4 separate regions of the Homo sapiens genome follow, and regions 2, 3 and 4 are each reported to be linked to region 1. Evidence: microRNA targets listed by miRTarBase, many of them from high-throughput screens and not tested one by one. Region 1 holds a microRNA gene; each other region holds the end of a gene's coding sequence.

The links. Region 1 holds the annotated microRNA hsa-miR-651-5p (UUUAGGAUAAGCUUGACUUUUG, at 1,109-1,130, shown strand). A microRNA usually pairs through its seed, bases 2 to 8, with sites in the 3' UTR of a target mRNA and lowers its output. Matches are read on the target gene's strand: a 7mer-m8 pairs with bases 2 to 8, a 7mer-A1 pairs with bases 2 to 7 and ends in A, and an 8mer does both.
Region 2: the mRNA of TMEM19 is a reported target of hsa-miR-651-5p. Seed matches in the 3' UTR shown: 7mer-m8 at 276-282 and 7mer-A1 at 2,477-2,483.
Region 3: miRTarBase lists PSMA2 as a target of hsa-miR-651-5p. Seed matches in the 3' UTR shown: 7mer-m8 at 2,367-2,373.
Region 4: the mRNA of SAMTOR is a reported target of hsa-miR-651-5p. Seed matches in the 3' UTR shown: 7mer-A1 at 2,479-2,485 and 8mer at 1,109-1,116.

The regions. Positions count from the first base shown.
Region 1 is chrX:8,125,872-8,129,055 of GRCh38, forward strand. It overlaps MIR651 (microRNA 651), which reads left to right and starts at 1,094; the gene lies at 1,094-1,190. The region is part of intron 1 of LOC107985675 (a long non-coding RNA gene); the gene reads left to right.
Region 2 is chr12:71,700,784-71,703,967 of GRCh38, forward strand. TMEM19 (transmembrane protein 19) reads left to right here. Exons shown (of 6, transcript NM_018279.4): 6 at 49-3,184. The coding sequence ends at 212. Among named protein-coding and RNA genes, the nearest start is that of TMEM19, 16 kb to the left of the region's middle.
Region 3 is chr7:42,915,062-42,918,245 of GRCh38, forward strand. PSMA2 (proteasome 20S subunit alpha 2) reads right to left here. Exons shown (of 8, transcript NM_002787.5): 7 at 2,717-2,774; 8 at 1,800-2,629. The coding sequence ends at 2,513. Among named protein-coding and RNA genes, the nearest start is that of C7orf25, 4.6 kb to the left of the region's middle.
Region 4 is chr7:112,819,227-112,822,410 of GRCh38, forward strand. SAMTOR (S-adenosylmethionine sensor upstream of mTORC1) reads right to left here. Exons shown (of 5, transcript NM_152556.3): 5 at 1-3,147. The coding sequence ends at 2,518. Among named protein-coding and RNA genes, the nearest start is that of TMEM168, 30 kb to the left of the region's middle.

The sequences.
Region 1 (3,184 bases):
TCCCAGAGTCCTGAGACAGCATCAGGGCCCTGGGCTCCTGCATTCCTGCAAGGTGGTGGTCTTGGTTCTAAGGCTGCCATGAATACTCTCAGAGCCTCAGTGGTGGGGGATTACGGGCTCTTGGTGAAACCATTTTCTCTTTCACTCCTTCAGCACAGAAGTGGTAGGAGCTTTCTGCAGTTCTTAATCTCTTGGCCATCTTACCTTCCCTTTCTACCTTCTTCTGGATCTCCTGCCCCTTTCTAAATGATTCATTTTCAATAGATTCCTTCTGTTGGAATGCATAGGGTGGTAATGCCTTCTTACCAGACCCTGCCAGAAGTAGTGAGCTAAGTCTTTTATTCTTATCATCTGCAATCAACAAGAGCCTCTCATGCATCATTACATTCATCATTTCATCACCAAACACATCATTGCATAATCAGACACGTCATTACATCATCACACACATCATTACCTCATATGTGCACCTCCCACTCTCCACCTAGACACAGGGAAGAGAGGAAGGCACCAGGAAATCAGAGTGGTAAAGAAAACTTCAGGAAATCAGGTGGTTTTAAGACCCTTTATTATGACTTAAATAAATTCTGAAATTAGTTTCTTTAAGGAAGGCCCCTAAACCGGGAATGAACATGAATAAGAATTATAGTCATTTTAGCGACCATAGTTTCCCCAGGAATTATTGCACTAAGGCATTTAAATTTTTTTCCAAATGCTAAAATATTTTGTCAGCTTTATTGACCATTCTTTCTAACCCCTCAGTAAATTATATCTCTATCTGAAGTGGAACATAGGAGATGCCCTAAGCTTCTCAAAGATGTTTTGTAACGATCTAGGTAAGGACTGTGTCTAATGGAAATGACAGGCATAATTTATTTGTGAAAGCAGAAATGAAATTCAACCTTGACAACAGATTGCGCATTTTTCCATAATGCCATGGAAGTGAAATTCTTGTGATGTAGATTAAATCGTGGAATTTGACTTATTGTTCAAAAACATTAGTTCAACTCTAAACAGTTGAATTACTCAGCAGCTGTGTACAAATGTATGATACAGATAACAAAATGTATTAACAATTCCCTAGATCTACAGAAATCTATCACTGCTTTTTAGGATAAGCTTGACTTTTGTTCAAATAAAAATGCAAAAGGAAAGTGTATCCTAAAAGGCAATGACAGTTTAATGTGTTTCTGACATGCAACCTTCAAGAGATCCATATATGAACCATTTTGTGTGGATAGTACAACTCTAAACATAATGTTATGTGGAAATTTGTATACAGAATATTTAGCAAAGAAGAGTCAGGATGAATAAAGTGAAAGGAAAGACTTTCCCAATGTTATTTTTTAAGTGATATGAGATGCATCAAGTGAGATGTGTTTGACAAAACTTTATTCAACGTTGATCCTGACAGAAAAGAAGCAGGAAAAAACAATTAATACACTTCCTATGTCTTGAAAAGTAGCAATTTTAATTTTATTGTGCATTTTGCTTGACGATTTTATATATGACTTCCAGTCAATATTTCATCTGGAGGACTGAGCAGGTATTATGATTCCCATTTTATGGCAGATTGCAAGGTGAATGTCACCTGTCATCAGCGCATACCTGGCCAGGGGCCACGTCTTCCAGATTCCAGCCCACACGGCATGGGTGCCTGCATTTCCCTGTTGCTCTTCTCCTCACACTGATATTAATGAAGCACATCTACTTTTAGTCAATAACCACTTTTATGTTACAGACACATAACAACTGGGAAATAAACATCTATATAATTAATCTCAACTAAGCCAGTTAACCCTTACTTTTTACCTAGGCTGTATGCTGAAATGTGTGCCTTTTCTATAAAGGGGTTTGTATTCCTCTCATTATATTGTATCAGGAGGAATCACTCTAAGATAAAACAGTTTATCTCCAAAAGTCTGCAGAAAATGTTGATAACAACCTGCAACTCTCTGGTAAAGGACTGTGAAATGCAAAACAAACCAAACCAAGCCCCAAGACCTACTCATGTAAGATGATGCTATGATACATTGCATTCATCTTTAGCTTTTTAGCCGTCTAAATTGTGTTCTATGAGAGTCTTAAATATCTTCCCTTTATCTCCTTAAGAAAGTCCTAAATTCTTAGCCAATTTTTTTTCCTTTTTTTTTTTTTTAAGAAAGGATCTCGCTCTGTTGCCCATTCTGGAGTGCAGTGGCACAATCTCGGCTCACTGCAACCTCCGCCTCCCGGGTTCAAGTGATCTTCTGCCTCAGCCTCTCGAGTAGCTGGGACCACAGGACTATAGGTGTGTGCCACCATGCCCAACTAATTTTTGTATTTTTAGTAGAGACAGGATTTCACCATGTTGGCCAGGCTGGTCTCAAACTCCTGATCTCAAGTGATCTTTCTGCCTCGGCCTCCCAAAGTGCTGGGATTACAGGTGTTAGCCACTGTGCCCGGCCCTTAGCTGGTCTTTGAGGACACAATACTGTCCTGTGCATTCTTTCCCAGACATGGCCTTACATCAACTGGAATCCCCAACCAGTCACTGTCTTGCATTGTTTTTTAAATACATTATAGTTTCCACTTTCTGGTACTGGTTCTTTTCCTTCTAGTTGCAAGTACCTGATACCTCTGTCTATAGCAACCTTTCTTCATGGCCCTGCTCAAATGCTCCATCCTCCACAAAGCATTCATTCATTGATTGCACCAGCCAGAAGTGAAGTCTGCATCCTAAGATTACATACAACTCTTTCTTCAAGCCCTTTATTCCAATCATATCCATACGGCTCTGGATTGTTTTCATGAATGTCCTTATCTAATCTCTCCTGAGAGACCCTAAATTCCCTTGGGAGAGGGACTTTATTTTAGAGCTAAGGCTGCCTTCAATCTTCTTTATTTAGTTATAGCTGCTATAAACCTTCTTTGACGTTAGAAAAAGCATACCAATATCTACCAATATTTAGTATTTATTAAGTTCCTGTTATATGTCAGGAATTCTGCAAAGGATTTTACATACGCTATTTCCATTTGCCTTAAGAGTTCTGCAAGATAGTATAAACCAAAAGGTATCTGAGACAGGTCTCAATCAATTTAGAAGTTTATTTTGCCACTGAGAAGGAAATAATCGTGAAGGAGGTTTGTGCCTTTCTCCAAAGATAATGTTGAGGACTTCAGCATTTGAAGAGGAATAGCTGTC
Region 2 (3,184 bases), not on the chromosome of region 1:
TGAAGTCATTTGGGTTTTCTATCTCACTTGCTTCTTTTTCCATTCCAGGGTTGGATGAAAGCACTGGCATGGTGGTCAACAGCCCAACAAATAAGGCAAGGCACATAGCAGGGAAACCCATTCTTGATAACAACGCAGTGAATCTGTTTTCTTCTGTTCTTATTGCCCTCTTGCTCCCAACTGCTGCTTGGGGTTTTTGGCCCAGGGGGTGAACTTTATTTCATTTCCACAGGTTGAAACTGGTGAGTCCAGCTAAATTTGCAATTCCAACTTTCATCCTAAGAATAATAACTGTAATGGCAAAGCGGAAATGCCAGTTCCTCCTGTATTCCATTGAGATGGGATTTCACATTTTCCTCTCATCAACTCCCCTGTAATAGCTAGCGTCTTTCTAGTGAAAGAGAAGAATTCCTAGAACTTATGCATTTTTTTCCTGCTGAATGGAAGTCTTGAGCAATGAAGCTATATTGTCCCTACATATTACTATATATTGAACTGAAAGTTCTTACATAATCAATGTCAAGTTTTGTCTTATTTTGTTTTGTTTGTTTAAACCAGTGTAGGAAATAAAAGTGATGATATTTAAAATAGTTCTCAGTTGAAGCAGAGAAATGCCACTGTGCTAGTTGCCCAAATGTTGTATCTATTTTAAATAGTTTAAGCTGATGTGTATGGGAGCCTAAACAAGTGTAGTATCCTGAACTTCTCCCATTAATTGCTATTCACAATTGGGAAAAGTGTGGAGATTGGTTCCTAGTGAGTTTTGTGGCCTACTCCACATTTGTTCTTCCTTCCTCAGGGTTAGTGATGAAAAAAAGTAAATATCTTTTTCATATGTCCATTAGAATGTATGAAAAAAATCATTTTAACTAAAAGCAAAAGAATTTTATCTTATATCTAAAAAATATATAACTTACTATATGTTTCAGTTGCTCTCTGAACAAAAATTATCTTCAATTTAATATGTGGAATGTGTTTTCTAGCTTTCTTTGAATTATGTATGGCAACCTGGTTTAGCACTGGCATCCTGAACAGTTAAGAGTCACTGGGAAATTATTGTATTTCTTTATAAATTTACTGTCATATCAATTGCTGGAAAATGCTATGATTTTTCTATTATTACCTTCTAAGTTGTATTCTCTCTTACACTGTAGCCTCAACTAAGGCAATTCTGCTATGTTTGTTCTTCACTATGATTTACTGTGTGCCAAAGGAGTTTTGACAGGGTACAGAGTATTTTACTAAAAGTATTTTTAAATGTTTCTCATGTGATTTCTGTACCTTCTTCCTCCTGCCCCTTTTGCTTTTTTAAAGAAACTGGGGAAGGATTTATGAATACACCACCACCAGAGTGGATAATGCTTAGAATTCTTTATTGGTGGCCCTACTATGGTGATGATCTAGAACTGACTTACTTCAGGACAGAAGAAAAAACAATCACACCCTTAACCTTTAAGCCAGTTAGATCAGGGGGTTGCAACAATTGGGTTAAACTTTGGGTATACATTGGAAGCACCAGGGCATGTTTGCTTTTTTTGTTTATGTGTTTGTTTTTTGAGACAGAGTCTCACACTGTGGCCCAGGCTGGACTCCAGCACAGTGGCATGATCTCAGCTCCGCCTCCTGGGTTCACGTGATTCTCATGCCTCAGCCTCCCAAGTAGCTGGGATCACAGGCGTGCACCATCACGCCCGGCTAATTTTTGTATTTTCAGTAGAGACAGGGTTTCGCCACGTTGGCTAGGCTGGTCTCGAACTCCTGACCTCAAGTGATCTGCCCATCTCAGCCTCCCAAAGATCTATTACAAGATGTGAGCCACTGTGCCCAGCCACCAGGGCATGTTTTTAAAAAAGTACTGATGTCTGGGTTTCACACTGCAAAATTCTGATTTATCTGATCTAAGGTACAGCCTGGATATTGAGACTTTTTAAAGCTCTGACTGTACATTGAATCATCATGTAAGGAGTTTTTAAAACATTGTTGCCAGGGCCCCTTTCTAGACCAAGTTAGTCAGAATGTTGGACAATGAGGCCCATGCATGGGTATTTTTACAAAGCTCTCTGGGAGATTCTAATGCTTAACCAAATTGAGAAGCACTGAATAAGAATATCCTGGGCCGGGCGCACTGGCTCATGCCTGTAATCCCAGCATTTTGGAAGGCCGAGGCGGGTGGATCACTTGAGGTCAGGAGTTCGAGACCAGCCTGGCCAACATGGTGAAACACCGTCTCTACTAAAAATACAAAAAATTAGGTGTGGTGGTGCGTGCCTGTATTCCCAGCCACTCAGGAGGCTGAGGCAGGAGAATCGCTGGAACCTGGGATGTGGAGGTTGCAGTGAGCCAAGATTGCACCACTGTACTCCAGCCTGGGCAACAGAGGGAGACTCCATCTAGACTCCATCTCAAAAAAAAAAAAAAAAAAAAAAAAAAAAAAAAAAAAAAAGAATATTCTAAGCACTAGAACTACATAAGAATGTCCTAAAGCACTGTATCTAAGCACTTGAAAAGAATGGGACTTTTCGGTTTTAGGGAGATAACTATTAGCAACCACACAATATGTTATCTTTATGGATGAATAACTTCTGGTAATGACACAGTGTCTTACAGCTACATCATTTATAAAATCATGTGTCAGTTTTCACACAGCCTGCACATCGTTCTGACATGCCCTTTTTTTCCCTGGAGATTTATCCTCATGACATACAAGGGGACAAAAATATTTATTGGGACTGTCTTTGAATTTAGTAGAATCACTGTATCATTAACAGTTTGGGGAAGTACTGCTTTGCAGTCCTTTATTTGAAAACTTAGGTCTAGCTGTGTTTTGCATCAAAATTTTTGAGCTATTCAAAAACTAATAGGATCTGTGTAAAATATTTCACTCAAAACTACTAAAAAAAAGTCTGGGATGGCAGCTCATTATCAAATATACTCCTATTTTTGTGGTGATTTATGAACATCCCCACTAAGTATAACTAAAGATCATAAAGAGCCTCAGATCAAGTTTGGTCAGGTTTTGTCACCAAGCTTTGTAAATAAACTGGTTTTCATAGCTTTTTGGAGATGAGAATTGAGGATAAGAAATTGTGTCTCTGTCCTTTTTTTTTTTTTTTGTTAAGTCTTACATGTATTTTACTGTAACATCTTTTGAATTGGATATTTAACTAATTCAACATATTTTTCC
Region 3 (3,184 bases), not on the chromosome of region 1:
CCTGAAAAAAAGGTGAGGTAAGTACTAAGAGTTGGCAGTTTCATTCTATGAAGAAAACTGAGCAATAGATGAAAACCCTTCAATGTTCACTTATCACCTACTTGATGCCTGAGAGACTGTGCAAGGTAATTATCTCAAGGTTGGGTTTTTTTTTTTTTCCTTCAGGGATGCTTGAGTGTTATCAGCACTTGATAATTATAAGGCTCTGTATTAGTATTCTTTATTGCCTGTGTATGTGAATTTTAAGCATCTCCATGTTTCACTGCTATTAATTGCTTTGCAAATTTAAATTCATGGTTCAGTAGAACTGGGAGGAAGTAGAACAAATGGAGTTAAAATGTTTTAAGGGTTAGAAGATACAAAATGAACCAAAAGGCAGAGGCTCTGAACATTAGAAACATTATGATACTTAAGCTAAAATCCACAGGCTGGAAATGGTTCAAGAGTTTTGGAATGTTTAGGAATGCAGTGGGTTGCTACATCAAAGAACTCTAAGAACTGGGACAAAAAGGAACAACTTAATTTTAAGGCCCGTGGAAAGAATAAACAGAACAAAGGGAGAAGTGTTGTAGGCAGCTTGAACTGGAACTGGGCTTTGCATTTAATGGGGGCAGGAGGTGGAAAACAGAACCTGGATCAAATCTGGTTCAGCTGATTTTTCCTCCCTTTATTCTTTAGGCCTAATTTTGTTAGCACACAATAAAAACCTACATGAGTTTTCCTTACCTCTGAAATATTAACATGCCTTTAATTTTCCCTTCTTTGATTTGTAGAATTTTGACATTGCTTTGCTCTTTTGATACTGGACATTATAGAAGGACTAAACAAAATCAACGGCAGTTAACAGAGTAACTATTAACCACACCAGGCTTTAACTTGTGTTATCAAATTTAGTCCTTAGGAAACCCTGAGATATGGCCGGGCAGAGCGGCTCATGCCTATAATCTCAGCACTTTGGGAGGCCAAGGCGGGTGAACCGCTTGAGCTGAGGAGTTGGAGACCAGTCTGGGCAACATGGTGAAACCCCGTCTCTACTAAAAATACAAAAATAAACCAAACATGGTGGTACGCGCCTGTAGTCCCAGCCACTCGGGAGGCTGAGGTAAAAGGATTGATCACCTGAGCCTGGGAGGATGAGGTTGCAGTGAGCCAAGATCACGCCACTGCACTCCCCCTGGGTGACAGAGAGATTGTCTCAAAAAACAAACCAACCAACCAACCCTGAGATAATTACCTCACATAGTCACTCAGCCAGTAAGTGAGATAGCTGAGACTTGACTTCAAAGACCTTTTTGCTACTATGTCCGCTTTCTAGTGTGCCAAAGTCAAAATATATCAAGAGCCCATAAGAGAGATTATTAGACAAGGCCAAGATAAACATCTTGAAACAGGAAGCCAAAGTTACCATCTTTCATCTCCTTAATGCTTTTGCCACCTAAAACAAGATATGGGTGTTATAGTGATGGTAGGGAACAGAACTGGGGACCCTGAGAAAAATCTCCAAAATAAGGTTCTTTTGCCCTTAACTAAATCTTAGAATCTTCTGAGCTCCATTTAAATCATGGAATTGCCCACTATACTTTCACGTTGGTAAGAATGATTATGCTTATAAACTCTCCTTATGTTCTGTAAACCAAATTAATGATTTTATCCTAAGTTGCCTTAAAAAAAATTTAAAAAAAAAAACCTAAGCACTGCCTTCATATGAGTGCAGATACTTAATTATAACTTTCATTATAGTGAAGCTATTTATTATACTGAGATTACATTAATGAATTAACAAGAGCCTTAAGCCATAGTTTTGACACTTAAGTATTAGCATTTTATTTCAAGCACTTATGCTCATCCTTGAGTTTAAAAAGTCTAACAAAATCTAAGAACCCGGGTTCCTTTAAACATGTTTACCTACTTGTGGAGACACCAACAGGAACCAGCAAACCATTGTTTATTTATTTACATAATGTATCTCCCATGGAGACCTATTTGGCTTACCACTCTTCATAGGCCTAGTACAATCTCATAGAGCACCCTAGGATTTCACTGATCAATACCTAATGGCACCTAAAAGTACCTATGCTTCTTTTCTTGTTCCATGAATCCGTGAAAGTCTGCAGATCCTCCCAGCTCTAGAAGCAGTCATGTTTTTTACCAAAATCAGCATTTTGCTTTATGGAAACACAGGCAACATCTGATAGCGAAGAGGGCATTAAGATTTGACTTAACCAAAATTGCCTGACAACGAAAAAGTCATTTCATCATTCTGCTTGGCAATGTAGTCTTCAGAAATCAACTGTGATAAAAAGCAGGAAATAACTGTTAAAATTTTAGCAACTCCTAAAAGGCTGGAAGGTGGGTTTAACAGTTTATTAGGATTTATAAGTGTCATTTTAAAAACAGTCGATTTAAACCATGTAGAAATAAGTATGCAAAAAGTCTGCAAAACAAAACATACTTTAAACATGTTTAAGTAGATAGATTATCTGAAATTCTGGATTTTTCAGTCACTTCATTGTTATGCTATGGCAGCCAAGTAATCCTTAACTTCAGTTGGAGTAAGCCTCCTAAATCCAGCTTCATTGCAGATTCCAACTTCTATGTTATCCTCTGTCATTTGCCCTTCAAAGCTTTCCTATTGAGGAGGGAGGAAAAAAGGTCAATTTTCTAAGCAGTTAATCATGAAATCATTATAAATCCAGTTGTTGAATACTGAGCTAACCTTTAGGGTTAAGATGGCTGTATGAATGGCATCTTCAAGTTCCAGATCTTCATTATATCTGAAGAATTTAAAAAAAATTACTTATATCATTGTTTATATTCTTTATAACTATTTAAATACAATGACAGCAACAACGTAAGTTTTTAAAACTCTAAACATCTTAAAAATACTAAATTACACATTCTTTTAATCACCTCCTTGTAGCTGTCTCCAGATTAAAAAAACTGACAATATCTGGTGCTCAATTCCCAACATCATGAACGGTATGACCCTAAAATGAGTTTAGTTTAGGAAACTTTTTTTTTTTTTTTTGAGACACAGTTATCTTGGCTTACTGCAAGCTCCACCTCCCGGGCTCATGCCATTCTCCTGCCTCAGCCTCCCAAGTAGCTGGGACTACAGGCGCCCACTACGCCCAGCTAATTTCTTTGTATTTTTAGTAGAGATGGGTTTCACTGTGTCAGCCAG
Region 4 (3,184 bases), not on the chromosome of region 1:
TCAGGTATGCTACCTCCCACCACTTGGCAACTATGGTAAAACCACATGATCTAGTCATGATACTGAAGAATCCAACCAAATGATTACCATTTGTTTTTGAAACAACCAAATTATTTTGGAGAACCAGCTGTGAATGTGACAGGAGGCCTCATAACTTCTTTATATCCAAAATGAAATAATTCTTAGGAGTACCCATACAGTATTAGAAGGCCCTATTAACTTCCACTTGTTATTACATACATGATCTGGCATCAAGCTGCAATGACTGCTTATACTTCAATACTTATACACTGAATTGGTTTTTGTGGAATGTGTATCAGTTTAAATCTGTGCCAACCTAATTGGAATAAGCTGAATTTACAGTAACAAATGATATAAATTCAAACAAATTTATACTAAGTGGTAGTAGGTTTTATAAAGAGACTTCCTCAGAGTACTACGTAAAATACATCATGCACACTTTGGAGCATAAGCAGAATCAACATCTGTAAACAATCAGAATTTATAGCACCAACATTTTCGCTGTAACACAAAGGCTGACTCCAGGGTCATACTATACCAGCCTTTCAAAAGCGCTGTTTTCATTTACTTTCAAAGCATTTTCATTTGGTGTATTGTTTTCTTTGCTCTTAAGATATTTACCCAAATCAAAAAGCAAACAGTATGGTAAAAGGTACTACCAAAATAGTTCAAAAGAGTTCTGTATTATCCTTAACATAGTGCTTTTTTTTCCTTCCCCTTCTCTTGGGGAAGCTACAAGACATAATCCTTCAGTGCTTAACTGGAAAGAACAGTCAATCCTAAATATTAAAGAATCTTATGCTGTTGAAAGTAAATGAAAAATTTCGAGTTATTTGTGGCATATTTGAGCAACCAATATTTATTGCATTTAATCAACTGACTTTAAAAAATTACAATCTTGTTACTTTCATTAATTTAGCATGTGAAATTTAATTAGAAATACTGGGTACATACACTCAACCATTTATATCATAAAGGATAAGTTTTATATTTCTAAATAAAGTTTGACATTCAAAGGTACTACGGCAATTCACAATAAGCACAAAAACATCAGCTTTACCAGAGTAAAGAAGTGCAGTTTATGAAATTTAGGATCAACTATTGAAAATGCAAGTTTCCTTTAAAAACATACAAACATACGCACAACATTAACCATGAAATCTGAAACTGTGATATTTCAGTGCAAAAACCTCAGTATGAGGTAATTTTAATGTAATAACCACTTGAAAAAAAAATCCACACAGTGGCACTCTTAAAAATGATAGCTTCCATGACAATTGCTGGCTGACAAGACAATGTGGACTAAATGTTCTTAACTGTTTAAACTAATCTTGTCTTGTTTGGACATATATTTTTCCCTAATCATTTGCTTCTGATTCAGAAACACAGAAAGGCATTTATTAATGTGGAAAGGGAAAATTCCCACAGCCAACTAATTGATATATTCAAAGAAAATTTTCTGATAAAGTTTAGATAGAAATTAAGATACCAAAAGGTCAAAACCATTTTATGAGATCACCAACAGAGGGTTAATTTTAGGTTTTTCCATATAATTTGAAACTTGTAGTGCGGCACCTCCTTAACGGAAAGGTGAGGACCCTATCAAAGTTGGTTTCAACAGAACATAAACTCTCTTCCAAGTGCAAACCCTTTCAAAAAGGTGTTTTAGGTCATTATTGAGTATTACATTGTTCCTTGCTTAAATAAAACATTTTGTAAATGAAGCCTAAGTTTAAGAAAAGTAAAAGTGAACTCTCAGGTAAATATACTTCACACCAAGGCCCAAATCAACAAGAAAGTTATGAAAATACTACTTTGGCAATGGTGTTTATTGGATAGGGCTAATAAAATTAGAATACACACTTTGGGGGACATCTCTCCCCCAATGTCTGATGCTGTCAAATGAGCTTTTAATATAAGGAAGAAATAAAAAGAATTATCACCAATTACAAAAAGTTCAGTAAATATTGGATCATCAGACAAAAAAGGAACATAAAATGACTTTCTGTAACATCACAATTTTAGTTAGAAAAAAGAAAAAGATAAGTGCATCACAAAACAACTAACCGATCTATTTTTCTGTATCACATTTAACTTGTGAGTCATCAAAGTGCAATCTACAGCTTTCTACATCTTAAAGTTTTCCATTCAATGGTTTATAGTCAACACTGAAAAGTTGAAAAGGAAAACATATAGCAAATTATGCTTGTTTTCACAATAGCACTAAAGAGAAAAAGGTACCTTTCTATGATAGTGCTAAATGCTAAAGTAACAGTAGTTTCTGCTATGACATGAGTCACTCTGCATGAAACTTTAAGCTTTCTATATAAGAATAAATTTTAAAATTGAGAAGTAGAAAAAAATAGCAAACTCTGTAAACCTCTGCATTTCTTTTATGCAAACCAGGTTTTCAGTACTGAGTTCATGTTAGTATTTCCAATTGGTGTAAGCAATTAGTTTAGGAGCCTGGACTGAAAGGGGCTTTTTGCTTCTATATTAACTTAAAAGTAATATGGGGTCTTCTAGCTCATAGAAAGGAATAGAGCTGGCTTGACTTTCTCCAGAATCTGAGTCATATGGCGCATCAGGGAGTTCTGTGAAACCATATGCTAGTTGTTCATCTTCTATATCTGATCGAACATAGCAGGAAGGGTTAGAATATTCCTCATCTTCTATACTGTTGAAATCTTGAGGAATATATAACATTCCTGGGTAGTTCCTACTAACCAAGTCACTTGTGGTTTTTAGAGAGATTTTCCTAAATGCCATCAGATGCATATGTGAAAATTTTGAGTACTTGAAGCGTTTAAAGCCCAGGGACTCTATAGCAATCTTCCAGCTTTTCATCATCATAGCATGACGGTTCTGATGGGAGGAATCAGGTGTGATGATTAGTAATAAACCATTTAACACTAACAGTTCATGGGCTTTCTTGCAGCAAATCCATCGCTGGTAAGGAGATGGAAAATAAGAAAGAAGGAGAGAGAAAACAACCACATGGAAAAGCTCTCCAGGAAGAGAATCAATAGGGTTTTTCAGCTGCTTCAAAAAAGCATCTATAGCATCCTGTGCAAGCTGGAGTGGTTGCTGAAGCTGTAAGTTCAGGAAATCACATTTATAGACACTCTGCAGAAACAGAAAACAAGGCATATTAAGAACTTCA